Linked DNA regions of Homo sapiens: region 2 is linked to region 1. The links come from fine-mapping of genetic effects on gene expression. A gene starts in region 1. The other region holds a variant in brackets. All regions are shown on one strand. Distances are from middle to middle.

Region 1 (15,958 bases):
CTTCAGCCTCCCGAGTAGCTGGGATGCACCACCCAGCTACTCAGTGGCATGCGCCACCACGCCCCACTAATTTTGTATTTTTAGTAGAGACGGCGTATCTCCATGTTGGTCAGGCTGGTCTCGAACTCCCAACCTCAGGTGATCCACCCGCCTCGGCCTCCCAAAGTGCTGGGATTACAGGTGTGAGCTACCGCGCCTGGCTCTGGTAAACATTTTTAAGGTGTTTTGAATGGCTTGAGGGCTCCCCAAAAACGTTTGTCAGAGACAAAGGGGATTCCAATGGAGTTGTAGTGTCACCTAGTGGTGGCTGGAGGGAGGAACTGGGGTGAGAGGAAGGGAGAGGCGGGACACACAGCAGGTCTGCTCTTTTGGCTATGAGAAAAACTTCCCCCAGCTATCGTCCCTGGGAAGAGAGCTGCCCTTGGGTGTGCTCTGGGACTGCTCTGGGGAAGGGTGCGTGAAAGGGAGATGTCACACTGCCAGCAGCAATTGGAGAAAAGTCTGCTCCCTGTCCTGGGTCTCACGCTAAAGGCATTTGGTGTGATTTAAGGCTGCTGGCTTCTTGGAGAGATGCCTCCTGACTCCTATTTGTCTTTCAACTTTGGCCATGAAGGAGTGTTACACTTTTATGTGGTCATATTTATCATACTTTTCTTTTATGATTCTCTGGTCTTTGTAACGTTCTTGGAAGGGCCATCCTGCCAAGTAAAGGCCACTTAAAACATCTGTGAGAGAAAAGAGGATGCTGGGGGTACTGCAGCCATTTCGAGCATCTTTCTTTGATTTTATTGTCTTTTTACTCTGTTTTGTGTTCATCAGTAGCTGTGTGCTCCCTGGCTAACTTCCAGAAAGCTGAGCTGAAGCCACCAGGCATCTTAGGTGTCCTCAAGCAGGAGGGGGCTGGTTCAGGAGCTCAGTGAGGAGGCCTCCTTTGCCACAGGTGTCTCCCTCAGGCTAGGGACGTGAAGGAATTCCACCCTGGTGCAGGCACAGTATCATGGGAATCAGGACTCAGGCTGTCCTAGGGCTGTGCCTCCACGCCTCCCCCATCAGCTCCTAGGCAAGTGACTTAGCCTCCTGAAGCCTCGGGATTTTTATTTGTAAAATAGGAATAATAATAGTAATAATAACAAGAACAAAAATAGTACCTATCTCACAGGGTTGTTTCCAGACTTAAATGAACTAATGCATCTGAAGTGCTTAGACCAAGGCCTGGGACACATGAGTAAGTGCTTCATAAATGTCACCTGTCACAGTTATCTGAGCAAGTGGCCCTGGGATAGATCAACTGATGCTGGACTTTGAAGTCAGTACACAACTGTCTCAGATGGAGACACACTGTCCTCTTTCCGACATTGGGCATTTTCTTTTTTTTCCTTTTTTTTTTTGAGATGGGGTCTTGCTGTGTTGCCCAGTCTGGAGTGCAGTGGTGGGGTCTCAGCTCACTGCAACCTCCACCTCCAGGGTTCAAGTGATTCTCTTGCCTCAGCCTCCCAAGTAGCTGGGACTACAGGCATGAGCCACCATGCCTGGCTAATTTTTCATATTTTTAGTAGAGATGGGGTTTCGCCATGTTGGCCAGGCTGGTCTCAAACTCCTGACCTCAGGTGATCGGCCCACCTCGGCCTCCCAAAGTGCTGGAATTACAGGCGTGAGTCACTGTGACCGGCCAACACTGGGCATTTTCCTTTCTGCTTCATGGAGGAACCTCCTTCCGTCCTTTCAGATACAGTCTTGGGAGTGCTTGGCCTCAGGTCTGGATTTTTTCCATGGGTGCTATGGGTACTTAAGCCTATGAACTTTTAAAGCATCTGCTTGAGACCAGAAAAAAACATTACTGTCCTCAAGTTATGAAAGGAAAACTTCAAACCAAAATTAATAAATGTTCACTTAAATGCCTTTGTTGTATCAATGTCATTGATTGCTAAATGTAGTACTCATAAACATTTCATTATATTTGAAGACAAACATAGTTTTTTTCTCACTTGGCAAGGCATCCAGCACACGCATGATTGCTTAGAAATAAAACCAGTTGTAAATTCAGTGAGTCCCTTGTCATCCAGTGATTCCAAAAGCCAAATTTGTAAAAATCCTTTCAAAATGTTTACTGCAAGAAAATGATGTTTAATGTGGAATGCGGTATATTTTAGTACATTTGGCCTGACAGGGTTGGGCTCCAAAATAAGAGTTTGGGGGTCTATGAAGACCTCACAACTGATCCTGGATTCAGGGGCCACCTCCCAGAGGGCAAGTTTGTCTGTGGGGCAGAGGAAGGGGCTGGGATTCACCCCTGCTACCTCCTTGCACAGTCACCTCTTCCAATAAGTTAGCCCTGCTTGTGTGGCAGCCAGCACTGGCCTGGTCCCCATGGGGTGTCCAGCTTTCCCCCGAGAAAGCCTGTAGGCCTTCTTTAAACACCGTCTTCACAACTAGAACATGTGACCATGTGGAGCAGTTTCCCAATGTGTAATCAATAAATGACCTGTATCATACTCTGCTCAATCTAAGTCTCAAGGGGTGAGGTCTGGGAGTCTGCATTTTAGTAACTTTCTCCCCCTCTCCCCAAGGCCTCATAGATGATTCTGATGCACGTTTAAGTTTGAGAATTATTAGTCTAGAGTGTGTGTGCACCCCAGGAGGAGGGCAAGATGATCCCTTTTTCAATATCATTAGTCTATGTTTCATAATATACATAATATGAATACAGTAGTGCATTTTTAGAAATTATAAATAAAGAAATATACATATATTGGTGTACACACTTTAAAAATTTATTACTGCTAGGGGTGCGTGATCAAAAAAGTTTGGAGCTCAGAGCAACGTGCCCAGCCCAGCTATGCGGTCAGACCTGCTGTATGTTCAGCTCTGAACCTGGGCCTGGGAGGTGGGGAACTGGGACTGGAGTGCACAAAAAGCAGAGGACAGGCTGCCCCATGGTGCTAGCAAGGAAACTGCATCTCATCAGCGCCAGGGATACAGGTAGTGCTCAATAAATGGTCACTGGGCAATGAGTGAAGCTGAATCCCAAAAATACCTGGGAATAAGATGGCATAGGGCCCATTCCATCCTAAAATGGGCAGCACAGACTTCCATCCTTCAGAGGGAGGGCCCGACAGCTTAATCCATCCATTTCTTTATTCATTCATTTATTTAATAACTAGTTATTGAGTATGCACTAGGCATCAGGCACAGGCACTCAGAGATCTACCCCTCCAACTTGTCCAGCCACCCCCTGAAGTTCAGACAGGACACCACCCTCTCCCCCGACAGCTTTTCTGATAGTCTGATTAACTATGGGCTGGTGGCTGGGTGGACATGGTGGCACATGCCTATAATCCCAGAGCTTTGGGTGGCCTAGTCGGGACCTGAAGCCAGGAGTTCAAGACCAGCCTGAGCAACAAACTGAGCTCTCATCTCTTACAAAACACAAATAAATAAAAAATTAGTCAGGTGTGGTGGCGCATGCCTGTAGTCCCAGCTACTCGAGATTGAGGTGGGAGCATCGTTTGAGCCCAGGAGGTCGAGGTTGCAGTGAGCTATGATCACGCCTCTGCATTCCAGCCTGGTGACAGAGTGAGACCCTCAGCTCTAAATACCAAAACCAGGCGGAGTGCAGTGGCTCACGCCTGTAATCCCAGCACTTTGGGAGGCCAAGGTGGGCAGATCAATTGAGGTCAGGAGTTCAAGACCAGCCTGGCCAACATGGCAAAATCCTGTCTCTTCTAAAAATACAAAAATTAGCTGACCGTGATGGCACGCACCTGCAATCCCAGCTACTCAGGAGGCTGAGGCACGAGAATTGCTTGAACCCAGGAGGAGAGGTTGCAGTGAGCTGAGATCATGCCACTGCACTCCAGCCTGGGTGATAGAGTTAGACTCTGTCTCAAACAAACAAACAAATAAACAAAACCCAAACAAAATGAAACAATGGGCTGGGACTTGGGGAATGGGAGGGTGCTACCTGTGGTAGCCAGGGATAGTTGTGGCTGTTTCCCATTTTAAGGTTAATTTCTCTGCCTGGAGGGAGGTGTCATGCCATTGACTAGGGTGGTCTCAATTCAGGGGAGTCCAGCTTGGCCTAGAGGCGCCCCACTTTTGTCTGCCTGAGGAAAGGTCATCACTCTGGTTGGTTCTGAACTCAGTATCCAGAGGCTCAGGGAAGGGAGTAGACTCTCAGTTAAATATGCTATTATTTTATCAACGCGGTAACTCTTCAAGACTTGAATGGATCTGGAAGCTATGGAGAGAGAGAAAGAGGAAGGGAGGTAGAGAGAGGCGAACCAGGCAGGAGCGGACAGCCAGGGTGGGAAGAACAGAGGTTGCAAGGAGAGAAAGTGACCAGGGTGGGAAGAAGCAGAGAAGGAAGGGCAGGGGGAAAGACGAGAGGGGGTGGGAAGGGGGTAGAGAGTGAAAGAAACCAGCAAGGGCCAGGTGCGGTGGCTCACTCCTGTAATCCCAGCACTTTGGGAGGCTGAGGCGGGCGGATCACTTGAGGTCAGGAGTTAGGGACCAACCTGGCCAACACGGTGAAACCCCATCTCAATTAAAAATACAAAAATTGGCTGGGCACGGTGGCTCATGCCTGTAATCCCAGCACTTTGGGAGGCCGAGGCGGGTGGATCACGAGGTAAGGAGATTGAGACCATCCTGGCTAACACGGTGAAACCCCATCTCCACCAAATATGCAAAAAATTAGCCGGGCGTAGTGGCAGGCACCTGTATTCCCAGCTACTCAGGAGGCTGAGGCAGGAGAATGGCGTGAACCCAGGGGGCGGAGTTTGCAGTGAGCTGAGATCGCGCCACTGCACTCCAGCCTGGGTGACACAGCGAGACTCCGTCTCAAAAAAAAAAAAAAAAAAAGAAGGAAAAAAAATTAGCTGGACATGATGGTGTGTGCCTGTAGTCCCAGCTACTCGGGAAGCTGAGGTTGGAGAATTGCTTGAACCTGGAAGGTGGAGGTTGCAAGATTGCAGTGAGCTGAGATCGTGCCACTGTGCTCCCACTGGGCAAGACTCTGTATAAAAAAAAAAAAAAGAGAAATCAGCAAGAAGAGAGCAACAGGGAAGGAAGGGAAGGTGGGAGTGGAGCTGCTGTTGAAGGAAGCTTCCTCAGGTCCCTGCCTGGGGCCTCCCTCTCCTGCATGCCTGTGTGTGCACTCACAACACCTACGCATGCACATACAAGGACACAGGTGTTCGCGAAAGTGCACACGTGTGCACTGACACCCACCCCCTCAGGCACTGCCCGCAGAATCTGCACTGCTGGGTGTGTGGGTGTTGCCACGGTGACTGGTGCTGGAGCATCACCTTGTGGGTATTAATAGCTTCCCCTGAAGCCATCAAAACAGTGACTTCATCAGCCCCAGTCTCCCTGGCAGTTTCCTTCTTCCTCTTCCCTTCCAGGATGGGTCTGGGAAGGGTCTTCTGGATCAGAGCCACCACCCAGGCACCCCACCCCTATGAGCTGCCTTGGGGAAGGATGGCAGGAAGGCCTCTGAGTTCTGCCCAAGGTCTGGGGGTAAGGAGACTGCTGGCCTTCTTTAACCCTCTGAGCTGGGTCTACCCTAAGTCCCTGCCAGGGAGGAGTTGCTGGGGCACAGGACTCCTCAGAAGGGCCACGCTCAACTTCTCTGAGTCCTATGCAGCCACACCAACCTCCTCTAGGTCCCTTCCTGGCCAGAGACCTAGTTGACTCTAACAGTGGTGTCCCCTCTTCCAGTACAGAGCTCCCTGAAGTACTAGGGTGAAGGTAGAGAGGGGCCTAGGGCGTGAAATATAAGAGGACCTAATTCCCAGGCTCGCGCAAGTGCAAGCTTGGTATCTGCATGAACTTGAGAGTTGGCGCCTTCTTCAATTTTGCGCCAGGGATGCCTTGGCTACCTCATCCTATCCCAGCCCTATTGATACTCCCATCAGCTCCTCAACCCTCAGTTCCCTGCCTTTGTCCCTGACGCCTCTCACCTTCCTTTGGGACTCCCTGGGATCACGCTGCCCTGAACTGCAGAACCTGGGCTGCCTCTGGACTCAGGTGAGCATCCGCCTCTGGCCTTCACTTCCCTCCTTCCCTTTGACGTCTTCCTCTCTCCCCTGCTTTGCCCATAGCCCCAGGTCTAGGCCATGTGGGGCCTGTGACATCCCTTTGTCAGGCGCGGTGGCTCATGCCTGTAATCCCAGTACTTTGGGAGTCCGAGGCAGGTGGATCACCTGAGGTCAGCAGTTCAAGACATCCCTGCTGTGCTCTACCTTTGGGGCCTCATCCCCTCCCCCATTCCCCTGCCCACACCAGGCTTCCCTGGAGCCACCGTCTGTAAATCCTAGCTAGGCCCTTGTACTTCAAACACACTCTAGCAGGATGAGTCTCAACTATGCAGAGTCCTCATATTTGTTCTAACTTGTGAAAGGCCTGATTCTAGTGGCCACTCACAGTGACTTCATTCCGGCAGATTTCAGGGGGAATATAAGTGTGTGTGCTTGTATAGGTGTGAGTGTGTGAGATAGTGTAGCGGTGTGTTAGCACATGTGTGAGTGTGTTGCCATTAAGAGCCTGTGGATTTCTGATGCATGAGTCATTAGCTGGGAGTGAGCCTTGGGAAGATACTGCCCATAAATAAGACAGCCATCCCTGACCTGCTGTGGCCATCTGCAGCTGCCTGCACACGTGATCCTGGGCATCTGGGAGGCTGGAGGCCGGGTTCGGGGCTGCCTTTCCCTCCAGATTCCAGAGAGACAGTGGCTGTCACAGATATTTCTAGCTTGCCTGGAGTCCCAGACATTTAAGGGTAGAATGCCTGGAATGGGGATGGAGAGAGGAGAGTAGGAGAGGAAAATAAAGGGTGGTTCAGGAGGCTCTGCCCCCAGGGATCTCAGTGGAGCCTCCTGGCCCACAGTGGGAAGCATGCATTCCACAATTATTTTCTGAGAATCTGTCACATGCCAGGCATTCCCCCAGTGGGTAAGGACACCCTGGTGAACACGACTGACCTGTGCTCTCCCCTCACAGAGCTTATGTTCTAGCAGGGAGGCAGAAGATAAACGAGGAAAGGCTACTTGTAAACAAGTTCCATATAAAAGCTATGATGAAAATAAAATGGAATATTGTGGAAAGTGACTGACAGTGGAGGGGGTCCTTTAGTTGGGGCAGTCAGGGAATGTCAGGACACGAATTGTGCCTAGATAATGAGGAGCTGCCAAATGGAGACTTGGGGGAAGAACCTTTATTACAGAAAAGGATACATGAGATGTCCCCCTGCCCACCCATGTCTTCACTGGACTCTGGATCTGAGTTGCTGAAGCCAGAGCAGGGAGCTAGAGATGACTTAGAGGAGCAGGAAGTCTGATTCCCTGGGGGGAACCTTGGAACATCTTCCATCCCTGATAGACCAGGAGAGATGCCCCGGGTCCAGGAAGGAGAAGAATGACTTCTGTTTCCCTTCCTGAAGGCTTCTTGGTGCAGTGTTGAGCTACAGGAAGGCACTAGCCACATGAGCAGGGCCCTTGCTGAAACCCCCTTCCTCCAGGAAGCCTTCTTTGACTGCCATAGGCTGCAGAGGCTCCTCTCCCCCACCTTGTTATAGCTAACAGAACCACTCAGTTCAGAGCTGGTGGTCTTCTGATGATCTGTCCCGGAGATCTGTTCCCTCAGCTTGGCCAGAGCTCCAGGCTTGTGAGTCTGGTCCGCGGGCATTCAAAGGCCCTCAGTGGCATCTGTGCATCAGTGAGACTGCCCGGGGTTCCTGCTCTGAACCCTTGCCCTAGTGCCCCTAGCCTGGCTGAGAACGGAGGGTCAAGTGCCGGGGTTCTAATCTCAATTACTTTATCCAAGCATCCGCTCGCTCATTTACATGTTTCCCTGGGCTCTCCACTCTGCGCCAGGCCCGGTACCTGGAGCTAGGGAAACCGAACATTAGTGCTGGCTCGCCCGCCCCCGCATCCGGGGAGCTCGGCGTTCTCGCGGCCCTGCTCCCCTTGTTTTCAAGTGCAAGTTCCATGTTTCCGTGCTGGGAATAAGGCCAGCCCCGGGTGCCACCATACTCGCCTGATGTCTTACCCCGACCCGCGCCGCCGAGAGCTTGCGGCTACGGGAACGCGGCGCGCCCCGGGGCCACATCTGGCCTAGCGGGCGCGCGCGTGTCACTAAGACGCTCATTCACCGGCGCAGCTGTCACCATAACAACCGGAGCGAGGGAATCCTGGAGACTGCCGGGGCGGGGGGCGGGGGCGGCGGTCGCAGGAGGGACCCGGCGCGGGCGGGACCGCGGCGGTCGGGGGACACCAGCTGCGTCGGAGCGCCCAGAACGCCCCGCGCTCCGCCGAGCCCCGCTCCACGCAGACCCGCGGGCGGGAGGGAGCCACGCACATCGCCGCCGCGGCCGTCTCCGCGGGGCGGTAACCGAGCCTGCCTCGGAGCCGCCGAACGCCCACGCCAGCGACCCTGACTCTATGGCCCCGGGGGAGCGCGCCGGAGCCGCCGCGCCGCCCACCCCCAGCCGGAACCCTAGCGTCCCGGGGAGCAAGCGGGGAGCCCCGGGCGTCCCCGGCCCCGGCCCAGGGCCCTGCTTGTGGCCCCCGCTCCCGCCACGGGGCATGGGAGGCAGGTAGCCCAGCCTGCGCCAGGACACCCGTGGCGGGCGGAACCCGCCAAGGACCGCGAAGTCCAGAGAAAGGAAGCTGAGGAGCTGCCCGCCCGCCCCCGGCTGCAGCCCCAGCAGGGCCCTCCCCCGGTGGCGCGCACCCGCGCGCGCACACTCGCACACCGCACCTCAGCGCCTGCCCGGCCTCGCCCCCACCCGCGAGCGCCGAACCTCCTGGGGCCGGATGCCATGGGTAACAACTTCTCCAGTATCCCCTCGCTGCCCCGAGGAAACCCGAGCCGCGCGCCGCGGGGCCACCCCCAGAACCTCAAAGGTAGGCTCCCCGGCCGAGCGCTGCTGGAGGACTGGGGCGCAGGTGGAGGGCCAGGGAGGTGTGGTTGGGGAGGGCGGGCAGACGCCACCTGTTGTGCGTGTCTGGAGGCCGGAGATGCACCTCTGGCCGTGGAGTGGGCTGGGGGTGGAGGGCAGCCGGCGATGATGGTGATGGAGGATGGCGTCCCGCGGGGTCTGCGCAGTTCTGTCTGCTGGCACTGGGAACGTCACTGGAGTCCCCTCAGGCCATGGTCTTAGGCGAGCCTGAAGAGATGGGAAAGGATGTTTGCCAGGTCGATAGGGGAGTGGGGAGTGAGGAGGGAAGCTTGGGTCGTCCGTGTCTCCAGGGAGGCACCTCGATGGGTCTCCTTTCCATCGGCCCTAGGGCTGGAGAGACCAGGCTGGGAGCACTAGTTGCATTTCCAATGGGAGGGTTTTAAAAATTCAGGACAGGATTACAGCAGCCTGGAAGAAAGGGTCAGAGCTGCTGGTTCCTGGGGTCCTTTGCAGCCGTTGGGTTTTTGCATCCATTGAATTAGTTTGATTTCTGGTTTTCCCAAAGACCAGATATCCAGTCAGAGCCCTAGAAAAGAGGGTCTGGGAGCCTTGAAACAGAGGGACATTTACTAGGAATGTCTTTGCTCTTCACCTCCCCAGATCCACTCAGCACCCTCAGGGTGGCCCTAGGCCCAGTCTCCCCATTCGGAGCCTGCCATTCCTGTCTTGGATCTTCCAATGCTGTCTCTGACCTTTGGAAGACACTGCTGGGTCCTCCCGGGCCCTCAGACCCTACTAAATTCCTTCCGGAAGGTGCTTTTCTGTCACCTCAGAACCAGTGGCACTTGTCCTGGGCATGATGGCTAAAAGCCAGGAAGGGAAGCCCTTGGGCTTTCAGAAAGAATACCCCACTTCCTAAGCTCCTCAGGTTATGAGAAGGATAACAATAGTGCCCTTTAACACAAGGCATCGAACTTTCTCAAACACATTTTCAGTGAGCATGGACACTGCTTGGGGTAGTCAGCAGAGCAGAGCTAATCACACTATACCCATTTTACAGATGAGGAGAACCAAGGCTTGCTTCAGGTTCCCAAAGCCAGCCAGACCTCGGCGCTAGGTGCTAGGCTGTAGACCCCTATCTTTTGACTTGGAATTCTGTCCCTTCTTTTGCTGAACAGTTAACTTTTAAGACCAGGGAAGAGGAGGAGAGATAGGACCACTGTCCTGCATTCTAATACTCCAGCTCTTTCAGAACTTCAGCTTTCACTTGGCTCAGGAAAATCAGTGGATTTGTTGTGTCTTTCTGGAAATTAATATGGCAATACATGTCAAGATACTTTAAAAATATCAATTTGTTGGCAGGGTGCGGTGGCTCACGCCTGTAATCCGAGCACTTTGGGAGGCTGAGGCAGGTGGATCACTTGAGGTCAGGAGTTCCAGACCAGCCTGGCCAACATGGCGAAACACTGTCTCTACTAAAAATACAAAAATTAGCCGGGCATAGTGGTGCGTGCCTATGATCCCAGCTACTTGGGAGGCAGATAGGCAGGAGAATCCCTTGAATCTGGCAGATGGAAGTTGCAGTGAGCTGAGATCGTTCCACTGCACTCCAGCCTGAGCGACAGAGCGAGACTCTGTCTTGCTAAAAAAAAAAAAAAAATCAGTTTGTTGACCTTGTAATTCTACCTTGAGGAATTGATACTAAGGAAGTGGAGATGCAGGAATATATACTTATGGCACTAGGCTAGGATGTTCATGGCAGTGTTATTTATACTAGGTGGATAACCTAAATGCTCAGTAATCATGGTATATATTCTTGGTAGAGTACTATGCAGTGATTACAATTATATTTGTGAAGAATAGTTGATGACTGTGGAAAATGCTCACAGTATAACGACAGAATACAAAGTTGTGAAGACTGTATGATCCCAATTTTGTTTAAAAAGTGGTGTGAATGCAAAAAACCCCAACAAAAACAAAACAAGCAAAAATGCTTGTAAAGTTTCCAAAGGGTTAACAATTATTTCCTCTGGGTATAGGATCATATGGGATTGCATTTTTTCTTTTTTATATTTTGCTCTTTTCTAAAATTTCTATAATAAGGAAGTATTATTTTTGTAATCAGAAATAAGCTATCAGTGTTAGCAAGTATGAAGACTGTTTCTGAGCATTGGAAACAGATTCCTAATGAACCTATGAATATCGTTCAGCTCAACCTTCTCTGCAAGTGAGAATAATGAGGGAAAAGAATAATTATTTGCCCAAATTAAAGTGGCAAAACTTGGCCCTGTCCTTCAGGGGGCAAGGGTTAGCTGGGGGCAGGGGTTAGTTGGCCCTTAATATTCACAGACTATCTTCCTGAGAAGGTCTTGCTCCATCCTTGACTCTGTGGAAACCCAGAGAGCTCCCAACTAATTGCATCTTTTTAATCTAAAATTTGGAATTGTGGGGATCTGAGGTCTCTGTGGCTAGGGTCTTTGGCAGAAGGCAGGAGTGGGGGCCCCATCCACACACCACTGTAGGTGACCATGGGAATTTTGATCCCGCCCCTACTAAGCCTGAAATGAAGGACAGAAGGTACCCATGAAGGCCGCCAGTTGTTGGCTCTGTCCTTCACCCAAGGTCCACTGATCCTCCTTCTCAGCTTGACTTCTAAGGACTTCTTCCCGTCTTTCTACCCTAATAGAGCCATCACCTTTATTCTGTAATTGTTTAGTGTTTATTCCCAATTCTCTTCTAAATGTATCAGCATTGACCTACGAGTCTTCTCTGGTATATCAGTGGTCAGCCAGAAGTTCATTCTAATTGTGTTGGTGTTGACCTGATAGGCTGTGATGCTAACTGCCTAGCCAGAGTTCTGCTGGGATGGCGTCTGTACTCAGCTTGAATTCATCTCTAATTCTTGTCAGTGCTCATCCAGAAATTTGCTGGGAGTAGGGGTGGAGTGACTGTCTTGATTTTTTTCTCTCCTTACATAATTTCAGTCTCTTGATTCCTCACCATTTTAATTAAAACAACTGGAAGGGACCTGGTATAATGGGGATCCTGGGACTGATTGGAGATCTAAGATTGGTCTGGCTGTTAGGCTGACATGACATGGGACATGGGACCCCACCATCGCCTCTCGGGTGATAGACTTTGGTCTTCTTCCTGGGAACACACTGACCCCACTCTGCTGCTGGTGATTCCCACTGGGTTCTGAACAGCGTTGGTCTAGGAGTGTTCAGGGGAGAGGTCCACGGTGTAGCTCTGGGCTTAGAACCAACAGGCAGTGCCCGAGGAGCTCCCATGTGCCCAGCTCAGAGATAAGACACCCCTGGGCTTTCCCAGGCTGGAGATCTACTCAAAAGGCATGGATGAGGGAGTGAATGGAATCAAGTGTTTGCTTGGTTGTACTGTCGAAACCCAGATATGTGGGCAGAGGTCAGACAAGGGGTATCAGGGGAGGATCTGAGCTGGACATGGAGGGAACTGCAGGAACTGGACAGAAAGCAAGGGATGCAGCAGAGTCCTAGGGTGTGGAAGAAGGGGGAAAGGCACTGACAGTAAAGGCTTGGAGGGGCTTGAGCGTATATCTATATATTACATGAAATAGAAAGTATATGTATATGGAAGTTATGTATATATTTTCAGTGAGGGGCACAGAGTGACTGGGGTAGGGTGCACAGGAGGTTCATGCCTCTTGGAGAAAAATACAAAGAATAAAGATTTTCCTCCTTGCCCAGGTCTTTCTGAGTGCCTGACTGGATGGGCTACCTCCTTTTATTTTTTATTTTTGAGACGGAGTCTCGCTCTGTCGCCCAGGCTGGAGTGCAGTGGCGCGATCTCGGCTCACTGCAAGCTCCGCCTCCCGGGTTCACGCCTTCTCCCGCCTCAGCCTCCCGAGTAGCTGGGACTACAGGCGCCCGCCACCGCGCCCGGCTAATTTTTTGTATTTTTAGTAGAGATGGAGTTTCACCGTGTTAGCCAGGATGGTCTCGATCTCCTGACCTTGTGATCCGCCCGCCTCGGCCTCCCAAAGTGCTGGGATTACAGGTGTGAGCCACCGCGCCAGGCCCATTGTTTTTTATTGTAAAATTTATATAACCTGAAATTTACCATTTTAAAATGTATAATTCAGTGGCATTTAGTACATTTACAATATTGTACAACCACCGCCTCTACCTAATTCCAGAATATTTTTATCATCCCAAAAGGAAATGCCATGCCCATTAAGCAGTCACTCCTGTTACCCTCTCCCCTGAATCCCTGGAAACCACGAATCTACTCTTTGTCTGTATGGACTCGCCTATTCCAGGCGTTTAATATACATGGAAGGATACAATATTTGTCCTTTTGTGTCAAGCGTCTTTTACTTAGCATAATCTTTTCAAGTTTCATCCATGTTGTAGCGTGCACCTTTTTTCCTTTTGTGGTTGAATAATATTCTATTGTAAGAGTATGCCACATTTCACTTATCCATTCATCAGTTGGTGGACTTTAGGATGTTTCTACCTTTTGGTTTTCATGAATAATGCTGCTATGAACATCTGTGTCTAAGTCTTTGTTTGAACACCTGTTTTCGGTTCTTCTGGGTATACACCTAAGAGTACACCTCCCATCTTTCAAAAGGTGGTGCTTCTTGAATTGGATACTTCACAAAGTCACTGGTTGTGACAGTTGTAGGAAGGCCGTCCCCCTCCAGCTCTGGCTGGGTGTGACGCCAGCGAGACACCTGTTGTTTTCAGTCTCTTTTCTATGATGGCTGAGGCTGCTGGGGGGCTGAAGGAGAAGCTGCAAAGGTTGACTAAGGGTCTTGATTCTTGTGGTGGGCCAGAGTGTCTGTAGACCCTGAATTTCCTCACTACTCTCTGGGGATGAGAGCAGGGGCAGGGGAAGGCTCATCCTTGGACAAGGTCTTAGCTATTTTTCTTTCTCTCCCTCCCTCCCTCCTTCCCTCCCTTCCTTCCTTCCTTCTCTTCTTCCCTCCTTCCTTCCTTCCTTCTTTCCTTCCCTTCCTTCCTCCTTCCCTTCCTTCTTTTCTTTTCTTTTCTTTTCTTTCAGCTGGAGTGCAGTGGTGGATCTTGGCTCATTGAAGCCTCAACCTCCTGGGCTCAAGTGATCCTCCTGCCTCAGCCTCCCAAGTAGCTGGGACCACAGGCCCACGCCACCACTCCTGGCTTATTTCTGTAGGTTTTTTTTTAAGAGATGGCATCTTGCCATGTTGCCCAGGATGGTCTGGAACTCCTGGACTCAAGCAGACCTCCTGCCTTGGCCTCCCAAAATGCTGGGGCCACTGTGCTCAGCCTCTAGCCATTTTTCTGCATTCACATTCTCGCTGCTACTTCCCCTATCTGAGTCCTCATCCCAGATATTGCCACAGCTGCCATCCTAATTGGCTTCTCTGCCTCCGGTCCCTCCTTCGATGCTGCCGGAGTGATTCTCCCAAAGTACTATCTTCATCATACCCTTCCCCGCTTCAGTCACCATAATGGGATATTCAAGGTCTCCATTCTTTGGTCAACCCACAGATCTTCCCTCAGCTCTTGTCTGGGCTCCTTCCTTGGTTGTCATGACGCTTGCAGATTAGGTGAGCTCATCCAGCTCTCCACCCCCGGGAATGCAGCAGACGGATCTAGGGGGTGCCTGGTGGCCTCCTCAGAGTGACTGGCTGCGTCAGCCCCGTGTTGAACCCAGAGCACCCATCCTGCATGCCCTGTTGGTTTTCAGTTCGGTTTTACCTTTGAACCCTGTTATGTTAATTATCATAATAATATTTACAATAGCTACCATGCACTGGGTGGTTACTTTGTACCAAGTTCTTATATGTGGATTATTTCCATTAATACCCTCCCAACAACCTACAGAAGGAGGTAGCATTGTCACTGTTTTACAGATGGGGGAAAAGGGGCTAAGAGAGGTTAAGTAACTTATCCCAGTCCACACAGTTAGAAACTGATGGGGCTGGGATTCAAAGCCAGGGCTCTCAGACTTTAGAGTTTATTATTGTGATCGCTGTATTATCCTGCCCCTGTAGCATTTAGCCTTGGGTGGGCTCTGTCTTTCATTGTGGGAGAGAGATGGGGGAGTAATTTTTGCGTCTCTGGACAGAGCCCCAGGGCCGGGAAAGGGCACACAATGGGGTTCTTGATGCTTTCTCCCTTGGCTAACCAGAAGATCAGGAGGGCTGTGCTAGTCTGGAATTCCCAGCCTCCTCCCCCTTACGCTTTCTTCGGGGTTTTAGACACTTTGGAGGAAACTTGTGGTTCTTTGGGGCCAGTGTTTCTCAGAGTGAGGTTTTTCTACTGCCTGCATCAGCATTAGCTGGAAGCATGTATACCATGCAGGTTCCCAGCCCCCAGCTCAGACCCGCTGACTCAGAATATATTGGGGATGGGACCCTCAAACCTGCGTGTTTAACAGGGTCCTCAAGATCTGAGAACTGTTGTGACTCTGGGGCCTCAGAACAGTCCTACTCTTGCATGCTTGGAGGAGGTGGGACCAGGCTCCTCAGAGGAGGAGAGCCCAGAGTTGGATGGGGGAGATTTGGAGGGGAGCTAGAAAGGTGTCTTGGTGAGTGGGCTGGCAGCAAAGGCACAGAGGCAGAGAAACACAGGATGTGTTCAGGGATGGTGAGCAGTCCTCTTGCCTGGATGTGGGGTCCCCAGTGGGGAGGTTAACAGGTCAATCTTTGAAGGTAGGCTAGGGTCATATCTTGGAGGGCCTATGATATTAGGACGAGGAGGTTAGATTTTATCCTGTAGGCATTGGGAGCCATGGACAGCTTTTGAGCAAGATGCATGTAGTGATTTTATTTCAACAGCACCAACAGTGGTGGAAGGCAGGCTGGGGAGAGGAGGAGATGAGGCATCTTGAGCTGCTGAGAGGTTCACAGAGGCTGTCAGCCTTCTGTCCTAGGCCACGCTGAAAGGGCTGGGCGTGACAGCCAAGCTGACCTGCTCATCTGGAGTTCCCATGGGCAAGTCTGAAAGCATTTCCAACCCACAGCTATGGGCAGCAGGACCACTGCTCATAGGCAGGAAAAAAAAACAACAAAAACCAGCAATGAAAGGATTTTTA
Region 2 (15,958 bases), 65 kb after region 1:
AAGGGAAGAGGAGCTGTCTGAAAGGGGTCAGGGGACAGGAGATGGCAGGGAAAAGAGGGACAGCTATAGTAGTGGGGAGGGCCTTGGGAGCTGAATGGGTTCAGAGAGCCAAGGGGCCTAAGGTTCCCTAGATGGCATGAGAGGACAGATGCAGCTGGGGATTCTGTCAGACCAGGCCCCCAGGGGCACTGCCAGCCCTGCTTCCTGCCTGCAGGCTTTGAGGTATTAAGTCCCCACCCAGGTCATATATGGGTCTGTGTTCTTCACAATTTCCAGGATGACATCTCCAGTGTCTGTCTGGGTCACCTGTTAGCGGATGAGAAGTCCAGCCTTACTGCCTGTTCTCCACCTGCATTTAGGCTTCATCCCTGGAATGTCACCTTCTGTCTTCTGGAAAACGTCTAGGCTCTGCTGCCATACAGAACCCTTCTGCTTCCTTAAGGAGACGGTCCACTGTCCCCTTGTCTTCTCTCCTCTAAGCAAGAGGGGCCCCTGCCCGTTGCCCTTTCCTGGATGGAGCATGAGTTTTGATGTCAGGCAGGTCTGGGTTTGAAGCCTCGTTTGTCTTGCCTTCAGAATAACCTCTCTAAGCCTCAGTTTTATAGCCCGAAAATGGGGGTGATTATAACTCCTGAAGGGAAGTTTTGGGATTGGCTGATACATAAGATACTTAGCACAGTGCCTGGCACACAGTAAGCGATCAATAAATGGTAGCATTTATAGCTTCTGCTATATATTTACTTATAGCCTCTCCATTCCCCTTTCACATCGTTTCCAAAGTGCGGCTATAGAATGGAACACAGATCATTTAGCCAGAGCTGAAAGAACCTGATTCCTCAATCCCTGCCTGGCTTCTGCTGGGATCTGGAACTGCCTGTTACCCCGTCCATGCCCGTTTTACACCCCTGGCTTCTGCAGGGTGGGCATTGGGTCCTGCTCACCAGTTGGTGTATAGTGGGCACTCAGTGAATGGTTGATGAATGAATAAGTGAATGAATGATGTATGTTAGTGATTTTCTCACCCTTTTAGTAACAGAATCCTTTGGTCAAATGAATTTTTTTTTTTTTTTTTTTTTTTGAGATGGAGTCTCGCTCTGTCGCCCAGGCTGGACTGCAGTGGCACAATCTTGGCTCACTGCAACCTCCACCTCCTGGGTTCACACGATTCTCCTGCCTCAGCCTCCCCAGTAGCTGGGATTACAGGCGTGTGCCACCACGCCTGGCTAACTTTTTATATTTTTGGTAGAGATGGGGTTTCACCATGTTGGCAAGGCTGGTCTTGAACTCCTGACCTCAAGTGATCCACCCGTCTCAGCCTCCCAAAGTGCTGGGATTACAGGTGTAAGCCACTGTGCCCGGCCCCAAATGAAATTTTATGGGATGCCCCAGTGAATAAAACAGAGAAGGGGTGCAGCTCTTCTGCCATATCCCGGGGCTGCCTCTCCCTCTAGAGGTCCTGGACACTGCCTGAGGAAGTGACAGGAGAGGGAAGCCTCAGACACAGGACATTGATTGCCACATCCTATTTGGGGAAGTGATTGTGGGAAACAGGCTCATACGTCTGTGGGAAAACCCTTTTAGACTGCAGTGTCAAAGGCCTGGGGGCCACTCGGGCCACCTCCCAGTTCTCTGTTCTGTTTCACTCAAGTGGCCAGAGTTGGGGCTGCTGCTCATCTGAAGGACTTCCAGCTCGTGGAGCCCCAAACCTGCCCCATCCCTGCTTGCTTACCACTTGGCTGCTTTCCCACAGTCCTGTGTCTGAAAATTACATGATTTCAGGTCTGTTTGTGAGATGTTTTCTGAGTGCCTGCTCCGGGCAGGGGCAGGAGTGATGTGAAGCCCGAGGGGAGTGAGGCTAAGTCAGGCAAGGCTCACCCTGTGGGGTGCAGGATGCGGGATGTTGCTGCTGCTGCTCCCTCCCCTTGAGCCTCCTGCCTCCTCCCTCACCCTTCACAACCAGATAGGACAGTGACTTTCTGAAATGTGGGTCTGGTCTGTTGCCTCCCTGCTGCAGGACTTCCCTATTGCTCTCAGGAAGAAGGCCAGAGTCTTCGCCCTTCTCCTCAAGACCCTCCTGGTGTATCCCTGACCCATCCTGGCTCGGCAATGGAGCGTTTCCTGAGGCTCCTCCTGCTCACCCTGCTCCATACCAACCTTGCTTCTGGAACACACCAGCTCTCTCCAGCCACAGGGCCTTTGCCTATGTTGTACTCACTCTCTCCCCTAAGCCACCTCCACAGCACAGGGCCATTAGCCTTCAGATCTTGCCTTCACTGTTGCTTTTCAGGAAAGCCTGTCCTGAGCCTCCCAGAACCTTGCTCCTTTCTTTCAGACCCTTTTTCTCAGGTTGTGATGATATACTCCTTAGTGAGACTACTGGATAAATGTCTGTTTCCTTCTGGACTGGAAGTCCGCGAGAGCTAGGACCTGCCACTGAGGGCCACCCTTGCATCCTTAGTGTCTGACACATAGTAGGGGATCAATAAATGTGGGTAGAGTTGAATTAAATGGTTGAGGTGCACCCAGGAGAAGCTGGGGCAAGCAGATAGGGCCCCAGCCAGGCCATGGCTCTCTCTGTATAGGACCGAGTAGGGTAAGTGTTAGGAGATGCCCAGCTCAGGAGCTCAGAGGAAATATAAGTGCCAAGAACAGGGACTTACTCTTACCTAGGGCCCTAGGGAGGCTTCCCAGAAGAAGTGTTCCCAGTGCTGGGTGATGGGAAGGGGGCATTCCAAGTGAGGAGAAGGCAGGAACCAAGGTGAGAGGGAGGCTGATGTCTGGGTGTGGGGCCATAGGAAGGCCAGGCTGGCATGTGCGAGGGATTGGTGGGCAAGGGGCCAGCTGAGTGTGTTAAAAGGCAGGCAGGGTGTGGAGGGTGACTCTGCTGCTACAGGAACAGCCTCCAAAGCATCTTCTTTTGGCCTCAATTTCCTCATCTGTAAAATGGGCATACACATACACTGATCTCTTAGGGTTGTCGTGAGGATTGAGCAAGTTAAATGCGTCACACGCTCAGGGCAGTGTGGATCATGCAGTAAGACCTCGTGTTTGCTGTTATTATGATCATTATCCGACAAAAGGAGTTTGGCTTACTTTCTCCTTGTCAGACTGACTTAGCTTCCCGCCCCCATGGGAACTGGGTATGTGTGCCAGGAAGTGTGTGCGTGTGTGTACGTGTGACTGCACAGCTATGAGCCGGTATGTGCCTGTGGAAAGTGGGCTGCCTTGTGCGGACTCGGGTGTCGTGGCTTCTCCCGGAAGTCGTGGGCATGCCTCTGGCTCAGGGGAGCATCGGCCGACTGGGCTTGCTCTCCCCCAGATCCCGCCCAGCCCTCTGCTGATGACTCTAGGTCAGGCCTGAATGTCCCTCCTAACCGCTTCCCCAGACCCACTCAGAAGTGGGAGCAGCAGGGTCTTGAGCTGCGGGCTCAGGACCCAGTCCAGTCCCTTACAGGGCCCAGGCCTCTGAGTTCCATCTGCTGTGGGACAGCCTCCACCTTTCCCGTGGCCCCTTCCTCAGCCCCTACCCCTCTGTCCTCCCACCTGCCCGCTGGCTTTCTCTTCCCACCCAGCCCTTTCCCTGGGGTCCAAGATCCCAGACCTTGAGGACAGGGGCTGGTGTCCAGGCCAGGGCCAGGGAGGATGGTGCTGTCCTGTTGTCCTGGTAGAGGCCCCTGAGCTTGTGTTGGATGGTGACATTGTCCCTCAGACATGGCCTGAGTCCTGGTCCTGCCTGTGACCTGCTGGGTAACCTCACGCAAGCTCCTTAGCCTCTCAGAACCTCCACTTTCTTCTCTGTAAAACAGATATCATCATAGCCACTGCCACCCACACAGTTCCTGGTGCACGGTGCATGCTCATTGCATGGCAGCTGCTCTCTTGATGATGATCTGGGCTCCCGGCATGCCTGCCCAGGGCTGGAGGGGCCTGCCATCCCAGCCTCCCTCTTCCCCCTCTGTTCCCACCTTTCCCTCTTCCCTGAGTGTGGGGTGCCAGTGTCCACCTTAAGATTTCTCTAGAAACTTTGCGAGTCTGTGGAAGCAGGCGTATGTTGACTGTGGACATTGAGAGGTGTGCATGTAACCATGTGAGTACATGTCTGGTGGTCAGTAGATGGCTGAGTGCGCTCAGTGGTGAATGCTCCCAAGTGCTTATGAGCCCATGTATATGCACATTTGTGTGACATGATGCAGAAGAATAGTGCAGGTCTGTGTTGGGGTGTGTGGTGTGTGTGTATGTGCATGGTTAAAGGGATAGGTTGGTGTGGGGGGGAAAAGCCTGGATTCTGGTGCTGCACTGCCTGGGTTTGCATTCCAGCCTTGCCACCTTTTAGGTGAGCAGCCTCTCTTTGTCTCAGTTTTCTCATCTGTAAGACCATCATCATCATCTTAGAGATGGTACCTGTTGATCTGTTGATAATGACTGTAATACTGACCTCATCATTCAGCCTGTGAGGACCAAAGGAGTTAATACTTGCAAAGCCCTTGGAACAGAGCCTGGAAGAAGACAGAAACGGTGTTAGCACTTGGTTAACAGCTCCATCAGCTTGATTGTGAACCTCTTGAGGGCAGGGACGATGTCTGTTTTGCTTCCCAGGGGGTCCCCTCTCACCTAGCAGGACCTCTGCATGTAGTAGGTGCATGAGGCTAGTGAATGAATGGCTGTCGGCCTGGGCGTTCAGGGAGGGCTGTGTGTGTCACTACATCCCTGAGATGGGGCTGTGTGTGATGGGGATGTGTGTGCGTGTGCGCGCCTCTGCTCGCTTTCTGGAGCTCGCTGCTATTTCAGGAAGCCTCCAGTCTCCTCCTCCTTATGTAAATAAACATGACAGATCCCATCGGCTGTACCAGCGCGGGAGGTGGGGAGGCTGGAGTGGGTGGGAGCGGGGAGGCGGCGGCCGGAGGGGTGTGCGTGCTGCGTGCGCGTGTGGCCGGCTGGCCGCGGGCGGGCGGCGTGCGCGTGTGCCGGAGGGGGCGCGTGGGGGCGCGTGGGGGCGCGGGAGGGGCCTCGGCCCTGCCATGCCGGTCTCCGCCCGCGGGGGAGGAGACGGGGGAGGAGGAGGGGAGCAGCCGGCCGGGGCGACTCGGTGACCAGCCGGCCGGCCCAGCAGAGGTGGCTGCACTGCCCGTCGCCGGAGATGGGGGGACAGATCACCCGGAGCACTCTCCACGGTAAGGCCCCGCGGATGCCTGCGGGCCCGCCCACCCCAGCCCGAGACCGCCTGGGGAGGCCGGGCGGAGGGGCGCTGGGGCTGAGGGCTTGGTCATGCCCCTACTTCTCACTCCATGGAGGGGTCTGGGGCTGTGTGGGGGCACCTTTTGGTGGTGGGCACTGGGGTGGGGGCAGCAAGGGAGCTGGGTAGAGCAGGAAGAGGGGTGCCTTCCCTGACAGTGGCGCCCTCCCACTGATGGTGGGAGGTCAGGCAGCTGAGGCTCCCCACAAAGTCTCCTTGTCCTCTTACCTCCTTGTCCTCTTACCTCCTTGTCCTCTTACCAAGGTGCTGACTAGTCCCCAAGTGGGATGCGAGGTCCTGGGTTTCCCTACCCACCTCTCCCGGGACGGAGGCAGCCACAGTTAGTTAGACAGCTGAGGGGACCTGCTTGTCGGCTCTGGGATGTGGGCCTTGGAGATGGTGCTGTGTTCTATGCTGGAGCCCCGCAAAGACATGTGGGCACCCACATGTGTGCTGAGTGTGCATGTGTGTCTGTGCTCGTGAGTAGGCACTGAAGGTGCCCGTGGGTGTGCACCTGTGCCGGCTTGTGCCTAAGCACACGGGTGTGCAAGTGACAGCACCCCACAGCGCCTGACCTCGCTTCTCCAAGTGTGTGCTCTGTGGGGGAGGCCAGAGAACTTCTGAGCCCTGCAGGTCACGTCCACAGTCAGACAGACCCACAGCCTGGAGCTGGAGGGGTTAAAGAGAGGGGGCCACTGGCTGGCTCCCCATTTGCAGAGCTCCTGCTTGCTCCAAACCCTGTCCTCTTGTTCCCCTAGCTCTAGTACTGTGGTCTTGGGAGCGCCATGGCCGATGTGGCAGCAGACCCGGAGAAGCCTTCCTAGGGACTTGTGTGTCTTCCCTGGGCCCTGGGAACTGGGGTCCTTTACAAACCAGCCAGAACAGAATAGGCTGACCTTGGGGAGTCCCTGACGCACTCCCCTATGTACCCTGCTCCCTGCTTGGATGGGGTATTAGGAGGTGGGACAGTGTCCATCTGCCGAGTCCAGTGGGCACTGAGGAGCCTGGGAGAGGCTCAGGAAGGAAGGAGGGTGGTGGCAGGAGCGCATGGGCAGCCGCAGCCGGAACTGGTGACCAGGTGGCTTCTCCCTTCCAGGCTCTGGACTTTGGGAGAGTAATTTCTAATTAAAAAAGAAAAAAGACAGGGAAAGATGTAGGAAAAGCAAATCATTGGCTCTCTTAAAAGGAAATGAATTCCGTCCTGGGTTTGGAGGGCTAAGTGACAGATGGAAGGCCCTGGAAGACACATAATCCGGAGCCAGGCCAGGGGCACTGCCAGTGGCCTGGGCCTTGGCCGGAGAGTTGGATTGGGCTGACCTGAGCCTGGCCTTGCCCGTCTGTGGGGTGGGGGCTCTTCTCAGGGCTTGCTGGCCCCGGCGGGGCCTGTTGGCAGAGGGTCTGGAGCCGACTGGCATTTTCCACTGGAGTCAGACTTGGGCAAGCCTGTGGTCTGGGAAGGACAGAGAGGCTCTCAGAGCAGACTCAGGACATAGTACACTGTCCTCCAGCTGCCTGGAGCACAGGCTCCCTAGAGGGTGAGACCACCTTAGCTCATGCTCTGGGAGTGGGTAGATATGTTTTGTAAGGAAGGCAAATGTCTTCCCGAGCCTCAGTTTTCTCACCTGTCAATGAGGCTAGTAATAGCACCCTCCTTCTAAGATTGCTGTGCAGGCCAGGCCCGATGGTTCACGCCTGCAATCCCAGACACCTTGGAGGCTGAGGTGGGAGGATTGCTTGAGCCCAGGAGTTCGAGACCAGCCTGGATAATATAGTGAGACCTCGTCTCAAGAAAAAAAGAAAACAAGATTATTGTGAGGATTACATGAATCATGTGAGCAGAGAACTCAACATGGGGAAAATCAAGAGGGCTTGGAAAGGCAACCTGGGCCCAAGGTCATATTCCCTCCCTCTCATTTGTCCCATTTCCCTGGGGGCAGGAGGATCACTTGCGGTGCTCTAAGAACTCTAGGAATTGGGCATCCAGGCTAGGTGGCCATCAGTGAGCGCTCATCAAATGCCACATCTGCCTTGACCTCCACCCTTTTGCCAGGACCGCCCTCCCAGGCGGGGCCTCCCTTAAGCTGGCCCTGGGCCTTTGCCATTGCACAAGCAGAGGGGACAGGAGTTGGAAGGTCTGGAGAGGGAGTGTTTGCCTGTGTCCACACAGCCAACCTCCACCCCCATCAGAACCCTTGCATATGCGTCCTCATGCATCCACGCCCATGTGTGCCCACACCTGTACACACGCCCTAGCTGCCCCAGCGGCTCTGGTTTCACCTTCTTCTGGGAAATGAGCTGGGGCCAGCGGGAGACGCAGGGGTTTGCTCCTTCCTAGGGGTGCCGTAGCCTGTAGCTGGGCTCCTGAAGACACATTGAAATGGTCCTTGATTGTATTATCTTTTCTTTTCTTTTCTTTTTTTTTGAGACGTAGTCTCTCTCTGCCACCCAGATTGGAGTGCAGTGGCATGATCTCAGCTCACTGCAAACTCTGCCTCCTGAGTTCAAGCAATTCTCTGCCTCAGCCTCCCGAGTAGCTGGGATCACAGGCACCCACCACCATGCCCGGCTAATTTTTTGTATTTTTAGTAGAGACGGGGTTTCACCATGTTGGTCAGGCTGGTCTTGAATTCCTGACCTCGTGATCCACCTGTGTCGGCCTCCCAAAGTGCTGGGTTTACAGGTGTGAGCCACCGCGCTTGGCTGATTGTATTTTCTTTAGGGCCTTGGACTTTCGGCTTGATTCGGGCCAAACATTTTGGATTGCTGCGTTAAAGTGAGTGAGGGGAGGGTGACAGGAGGACCCAGGACTCTGTATGTGTGTCGGGGGTCATCTAATTGTGTGTTTTGTTTGTGGACGTGTTTTGGCTCTCTGAGCTTCTGATGTCAACAGATGTGTATCTGTGTTTTAGATCTCTGTGTACCTGTGTGATGTGTCTCTAACTGTGGATTGAAGCGACTGTGTGTTGCCGGGCCTGTGTTTCCATGCGGGGGCAGCCACATCTGTGGTACTCTGTGCCTGTGCCATGCCTGTGTGTGTGTGTGTGTGTGTGTGTGTGTGTGTGTGTGTGTGTGTAGTGGGGCTGGTGGTGAGGAGTCGGGCTCCTCTGGGACCAGCCTGGCAGGAGACCCATGGGGAAATGAATTCCCATTTGGAAAATGGTTTAAGCGGTTACACGCTTGATCTCTTCCATTCGGTAGGTTTCCAGAGCTGCTCCTGGTCTTGAGAGCAGGCTGACAGGGGCGGGAAGGGTAGTGCGAAGAGGGAGGCAGCAGTGACACTGGGAGGTCCCCCTCCTCTCGCCTCTGCCGTCCTCTCTTCTTCCTTTCCCCCCAC[TTCC/T]TCCTTCACCTCCCTTCAATGCTCCCTCAGGGCAAGGAAGGGACCCCTTGCTGACGGCTGATGTGTGGGTGACACACGCACCTGCACCCAGACATTCATGTCACCCTCAGGTTAGTCTCTGGATTTAACAAGCCTGAGTGTCAGAGGATGCTGGCGTACAGGGACCCGAGACATTGGCTCCCACCCCCTCCTGTCACAGAGGGAGATGCTGTGGCCAGGAAAGGGAAATGGCTAACTGAGGCCACACAGCTGGCGCCTCAGTGGGGAAGCCAGGACTTGTTCCTTCTGCAGCCGGTCCCCCACTTACCGTTCTTGGGTTCCTTAATCCTCAAGCAGGCAGCAGCGGAGAAGGCATCCAGTGGCCTTGTGAAACCCAAGATTAGCAGAGGGAGCTACCTATCTCCCGGCAGCAGCTCTGGGGGCTTAGACCAAGGGGAGCTCCGGAGCTTGAAGGTGCACATCCCCACACCTGGCTCGTGCCTGTGGGCTCCAGGAAGGTGGGCATCCGGTCACTCTAGCTCTGCATTCCCTTACCTCAGCCTGGCGCCTGGCACACAGTGGCTCCCAGCAGATGCTGGGTCAGTGGGTAGCGGGGAAGAGTGTGGGGTGGACAGAGGCCCTTGCCTGCTGGACGGCAGGGCAGTTGGAGCTGAAGGTGGCCTGAGGGGTGGGTGGGGTAGCCATCAGGGAGGTGAGGCCAGGGCTGGGCAGTGAGGCCAGGCAGTATTTGGAAAGGAAGGGAAGGCGGAGCAGGTGTTCTCGGTGAGAGTTTGAATCCTGTTCTGCTCTTGCTGGCTGTGTGACTTTGGGTCAGTACCTTCATCTGTCTGCATCTCAGCGTCCACTTCTGTAAATTGGGAAGGGTAAGTTTTACCTTATAGAGTTGTAGGAAGGATTAAGTGAGCCAGTGGACGCTAAGGGCAGTACACCTGGTACATAGTAAGCACTCCACAGAGTGTGCTTTTATGAAGGTTTTTGTGGAGGCTCCTCTAGGTCTGTGTGTGCTTGCCAGTGCATGCACACACATATGTGCGCACACACACACATGTACATGTACACATACGCACACACATACACACATGCATGCACACACACAACACACACATGCACACACATATTACACACATGCACACACACGTACATGCACGCACATATATACACATATGCACATGCACACATATACACAATGCACGCACACATGCACACATACACACAAGTGCACACATAAACACACGCACACACACATACACGCATGCACACACACATACACACTCACCTGCTGCCTCTGTCCCCCAGCCCTGCACATTGGTTGTGTCTGCCATGAGGCACACGTGCCATCTGTGTGTGTGCACGCATGTACACATGCATGACTGTGGATTTGATATGGGGAGCTAGGGGTGCTGATGTTACTGGGCTGCACTTCCCCTCATTCTCCAGGCCTGGCCTGGGGGGCTGGAAGGACTGGGGCAGGGATTGGGAGCTGAGCCCTGAAGAATTAACATTTGGAGTCCCCTCCTGGAATCTTGAGGTGGGACACAAGAGGGAGAGGAGGAGGACTGGTCCTTCTCCCAGAGCAGTGAGGAATTGGGAGGCACAGCTGTATAACCTCTGGCTGCTAGAAATGTCAGGATGGGGATGTTGCAGAGTGAGTGAGAGCAGGAGGCTCAGTTGGGGATTAACTTGACTATGAAGGTGCCAGTCTTAACCGTTGCCTGCCACTTTCTTTCACCCACCCTGTCATGATGAGTTCATTCATCTTCCAGGGAGCAGCAGGACCTGCCGTTCGCATGCCAGGAACTCTGTGGGAGGTGCCAGGGTGCTAACATGGCCCCCACCCTGGGCATGCACAGGGGCTGTGGTGTTCATGGAGAAACTAACTTAGGAGGAGAGAGGGGACTGAGCATGCCAGTTAGCTAGCTGGAGCCCGTGGAGGAACCTCTGCACCAGTGCGACAGATCTGAGTTCAGAGCCCAGCTCTGCCACTTACCAGCTATGTGACCTTGGGCAAGTTATTGCCTCTCAGAGCCTCTGTTTCCTTATCTGTGAAATGGGACTATTGATACTGTTTTAGTCATCTATTGCTGCTTAACAAATTATTCCAAAACTTAGCAGCTTAAAACAACAAACATTTAATGATCTCCCAGTTTCTGTGGCTCAGGAATCTCTGCACTGTTTAGCTAGGTGCCTCCGGCTTCATGTCTGTCATGAGGTTGCAATCACATTGTTGGCTGTGGCTGCTTCGCAAGGCTTGCCAAGCTTACTCACGTGGCTATGGGCAGTCCTTGGTCCCTTGCCACACGGGCTTCTCCATGGGGTGGCCCCACACCGTGGCAGCTGGCTTCCCCCCGAGGGAGCAATTCAGGAGAGGCAAGAGAGTAACCAAGATGGGAGCCACAGTCTTTTTATAACCCAGTCTTGGGTGTGACATTCCATTACTTCCTCTGTATTCCTTTTTTTTTTTTTTTCGAGACAGAGTCTCACTCTTCTCACCCAGGCTAGAGTGCAGTGGTGTGATCTCAGCTCACTGCAACCTCCACCTCCTGGATTCAAGCAATTCTCCTGCCTCAGCCTCCCAAGTAGCTGGGATTACAGGTGCCCGCCACCATACCTGGCTAATTTTTTTGTATTTTTAGTAGAGACGGGGTTTTATCATGTTGGCCAGGCTGGTCTCGATCTCCTGACCTCAGGTGATCTGCCCACCTTGGCCTCCCAAAGTGCTGGGATTACAGGCATGAGCCACTGCACCAGCCACTTCCTCTGTATTCTATTCATTCGAAGCTACTTGTTAGGCCCAACCCACGCTTAAGGGGAAGGGGTCACACAAGGGCCTGAATGCCAAGAGGTGGATGCAGGGATTGTTGGGGCCATTTTAGAGGCTGTTCCCATAGACACCTGCCTTGCAGGGATTGGAGGGTGTGATCAGGTTGTGTATGAAGGGCAAATGCTGCAGCATTTGATACACAAGAAAGAATCAACCCTCATGGCCTTCCTTATCTGCTTCTTTTCTACTGCTGGCAAGTGAGGAGCTATTGAAGGTTCTTGAGCAGGCAGGGCTGTAGTCAGGCATGCTAGGCAGGGAAGGGAGCTGCTCCCTTTATTCCTTTCTTTTTCTAATTTCTCCACCGGACACCAGAAAGGGCAAGGCACGAAGTGGGTGCTGCCTGAACTCCTGCCAATTCATCAGTAGATAGAAGAATCAAACACTAGCAATTCATTCAGTAACTTTTATTGAGGACCTGCTATATGCTGTGAACTAGGCTATAGGGATACAGTAGTAAAAAAGACAATGGCTCTGGGCACCATGGCTTACGCCTGTAATCCCAGCATTTTGGGAGGCCTAGGCGGGCAGATCATGAGGTCAGGAGTTCGAGACCAGCCTGACCAACATAGTAAAACCCCGTCTCTACTAAAAATACAAAAATTAGCCAGGCGTGGTGGCTCGCGCCTGTAATCCCAGCTACTCAGGAGGCCGAGGCAGGAGAATCACTTGAACCTGGGAGGCGGAGGTTGCAGTGAGCCAAGATCACGCCACGACTCTCCACCCTGGGTGACCGAGCCAGACTCCGTCTCAAAGCAAACAAACAAACAAAAAAAGAAAGTGGTCTCTGCCCTAGGGAGGCTCACAGTCCATCAGGGGGAAAGACAGGCACAAATAACCTTGCAGCCTTTCCCAGTGCAGTGCTACTCTGCAGAACACAGAAGCTGATGGGAGTGACTTCTCAACTCTCCTGAGGATGGCATAGAACCAAAATCATTCTGGATGCAGAAGAGACAAGTCAATGCATTGCATACAACAAGTGCCTCGGGGTATCTGGGCTTAATCTTGTGTAAGAACCAGGATTGGGAAAGGCTGCTTGGTGATGCGTCCTCTGTTAGGGGGCTGATGGGGTCCTCAAAGGTCCATAGTAAGGCCCCTAACCTAGTCTGGGGGTCAGAGAGACTTCTGGGAAAAATCTACGTCCGAAGGATGCATGAGAAAGGCAGATATATAGGTGGGAAGGAGGAAGGAAATGTTCCCAGCACAGAAATGGGCCTGGGCCAAGCCTGGAAATCAAAGACAGGTGTGGGAGGTGGAGGCCCCTTTAGGGAACCCAAAGAAGTTTAATTCTGCCCAGTTTTACAATCATCTCTGTCCCCCAAGTTCCATCCCCACCTGTCCTTCTCCCACCAGGAGTCAGGCATCCCCAGCTTTCCAACCATTCTCCTAAATCCTTTCCCCCAGAGGGAGCCCTGTTCAGTTAATGCAGTTAAACGAGTCCATATCAGGACCACCCTGGCAATCTGAGATTAGGACGTTTGGGGTAAAATAAGACTGAAGTTCCTAGTCTCCCATTGGACTGAAATGAGCCGATCATTTCCTGCAGTAGTTATGTTTGCTTTTATATTTTTAAAAAAGACCTTATGTTGCGATCAAGTGTTAAAGTTTGCAAAATTCTTTCACATCTATAAACTTACCGGGGCCTCACTACAGCCTAGAGAGGTGGGCAGGGCAGCTATGATGAGCTTCATTTTACAGAGAAATAAATCAAGGTCCAGAGAGGTGAAGCAACTTGTCCAAAGTCACACAGCAAGTCTGTGGCCTGGTCAGGGTTTGAACCCACGGCCTCTTGCCTCCAATACTCATTCTCTGTGCCTCGCCCCACCGCCCAGAAAGTGAGACGAGACTGTCTCTTGGATGAAGATGATGATGCCAGCACTGGTATTCAGGACCACAGATTCAGAACAAGATGATCTTGGATGCAGTGGGCTTCAGCTGGGCCTTGAAAGATGGGTGGGGTTTGGAGAGGCGCAGATGAGGCAGAGGGAATGGCTTGAGCAAAGGTGTGGGGATAGGAAAGCAGAATGATATAAATAGTAATAATAATAATAATAGCAACTACCTACTGAGTTTTACAAACACCATCTATTTTAATCCTCACAAGAATCCCATGAAGGCCTGCCATGACCCCATTTTACAGATGAGGAAAGTGAGGCTCCCAAGGTCTTACAGTTAGTGACAGAGCTGCTAGGTTTGGAGGCAGCCAGCCCTGGGTTCAGATCTGGGCTCCTCACTCAATGTGTAAACCTAACTTCAGAGGATCTGTGCCAGAGTGGCATTGGGGGCATAAATCAAGACACTGCCCTTGAAGCCATGAGAGGCTGGGCACTGTCATCAGTATCAGTGCCTCTGCTCTTGGCTGGGGTGGTGAGCTCCCCCCCATCTCTCCTTGGCAGCCCAGCTGAGCCCAGCCTAGGGCATCTGGGTCTCTGCCAGTGGTTCTGGGGCAGAGCTTGGTGGGGGCCATGGGGAGGTCACTCCGGAGGGTATGTGTGTCAAGGCGTCTGCCCTGGGACCCCGCTGAGAGGCAGGAATGTGGTCTGCCAGCTGAGGGTCACCCGGAGAGCTGGCCAGGCTTGTGTCTGGCAGCTCATAAATGCCCAGGAGGAATGGGGCTGTCGGGGGAGTTTCCACCATGTCAGCAGCAGCCTCGCCTGAGGAGGGTGCCCCCACTGGGGCTCCCAAGAAGCCTGTAAACCTGTCACTTGAGGGCCCTCCCTGGGAGCTCTGCTGAGAGCCACGTGGCACAACTGGGGCTCCATCCAGTTGTGTGTGCCTCTGTAGAGCAGTTGTGCAGCCCACACGCCCCCCCCATTTTGAGGCACTTTGCTGCAGCTGCTCCCCTAGCCTGGGCTGCCCAGCCCCTCCTGCACACAGCCTTCCCCGAATTGCCTGCTGTCTTGGACTCGTGGGGAAAAGGAGCTCTAGTACCACAGGCTGAGTAGGGTAAAGGTCCCCAGACATGGCTTTGGAAGACCAGGGTTCAAGTCCCAGTTCTGCCACATAACTGCTGTGTGACCACAAGTGAGTTGCTTAACCATTCCGAATCCAACTCCTTCATTCGTAGAATAGGGACCTTAAAGGGTCATAGTCCCAGTGCTGGGAGGGACCCTGTTACATAGTGTAGGGGGGAAGCCCCACCTCCAGCTGTCCCCTCTGGACCCTTGGCATCAGAGCTATGTCCAAAGTTCATTCTCATTTTGCTTTCTGCTTGCCACCCCACTCCCTGCCTCCAAGATTTTAATGCCAGGATGGAGGAGGGGGTAGCAGGAGCAGGGACACTGCAGTGGGGTAGGAGGGGGGTCACCCTGATGAAGGCTGCACATTGGACACTCATAGTCCATGAGAACAGCGCCCCCTAGAGGAGTGCTGGGCACAGCGCATCGCGGCCCCAGCCCTGGTTTAGAAGAGTGGCGAGGCCTGAGTTAGGGCTGTAGCCGCAGGGTGGACAGGAGAGGACAGAACCCAGGGGTGCTTATTCCTGAGGCAGGATTGGTAGATGGGGTGAGGGGTGCTCAGGGGCTCCCCTGGAGCCAGGAACAGGGAGGGGCAGGTCAGGAGGGCAGCTGGGGCCTGCCACGTGACAGGAGCCCACAGTCCATGGCAGGAGATGCCCAGCACACCAGAGAGGCTTTTCAAGTGGTCTCCCCAGAGGTGGCTCAGTGGGTGATGATCACACAGCGAGCTGAGTACAGACAGAAGGGGCTGAGGACAGCTGCTCAGGCCGGGCCGGGCCTGGCAGAAGACAGGCACGGTAATCAGTGGGTGGGGCTTTGCAGCTATGAAGTGCTCTCTCTCCATACCTGGGGCAGGGAACCCCCGTTCTGTTTCACAGCTGTGGAAGGAACTTAAGGGTTAGGGTGACAGGCCCAACTAAGCACTGGGGCTCTTCTGGTAGATGGCCACATCCTAGGCACTGCCCAGGGTGAGCTGATGGGGGTGCCGTGGTGGTGAGAAAGTGCAGCCTCTCTTCTCTCCGTCTGAATGAAGATGTGACTTGTTAGTTGTATTATAGATTTTACTTTTAAATTTAATTTTTTGTTTGAGACAGGGTCTTGCTCTATTGCCCAGGATAGAGTGCAATGGTGCTCTCACGGCTCCCTGCAACTTTCCAGGCTCAAGTGATCCTCCCGCCTTAGTCACCTGAGCAGCTGGGACTGCAGGTGTACACCACCATGTCTGGCTAAGTTTTGTAGTTTTTTTGTAGAGAAGGGGTTTTGCCATGTTGCCCAGGCTGGTCTCGAACTCCTGGGCTCATGTGATCAGCCTGCCTTGGCCTCCCAAAGTGCTGGGATTACAGACCTGAGCCACCGCACCCAGCCAGTTGTAGCTTTTAAATTGAGGTATAATATGTATATAGTAAAACTCGTCCTTTTCGAGTGTACAGTTTTGTGAGTTTTTACAATGTACAAGTTGTGTAACCACTACCCCAGTCTCAAGATATGGAACATTATTTCTTTCTTTTCTTTTTTTTTTAGAGACAGAATCATGCTCTGTCACCCAGGCTGAAGTGCAGTGGTGCTATCATAGCTCACTGCAATCTCAAATTCCTGGGCTCAAGCCATCCTTG

The links. PIP is the estimated chance that this variant, and not a neighbour inherited with it, causes the effect.
Region 2: its variant is fine-mapped to the expression of NEURL1 in whole blood (TOPMed, PIP above 0.99).

Annotation. Positions count from the first base shown.
Region 1 is chr10:103,485,570-103,501,527 of GRCh38, forward strand. It overlaps NEURL1 (neuralized E3 ubiquitin protein ligase 1), which reads left to right and starts at 8,136. Exons shown (of 6, transcript NM_004210.5): 1 at 8,136-8,903. The coding sequence starts at 8,819. It overlaps NEURL1-AS1 (NEURL1 antisense RNA 1), which reads right to left. Exons shown (of 4, transcript NR_120675.1): 3 at 8,992-9,166. RefSeq lists silencers at 5,046-5,115, 8,345-8,494, 8,505-8,634, 8,715-8,814 and an enhancer at 8,481-9,030.
Region 2 is chr10:103,550,243-103,566,200 of GRCh38, forward strand. All of the region lies in intron 1 of NEURL1 (neuralized E3 ubiquitin protein ligase 1), which reads left to right. Among named protein-coding and RNA genes, the nearest start is that of NEURL1-AS1, 41 kb to the left of the region's middle. RefSeq lists an enhancer at 13,540-14,520. The variant TTCC/T (reference allele first, on the strand shown) is at 8,568.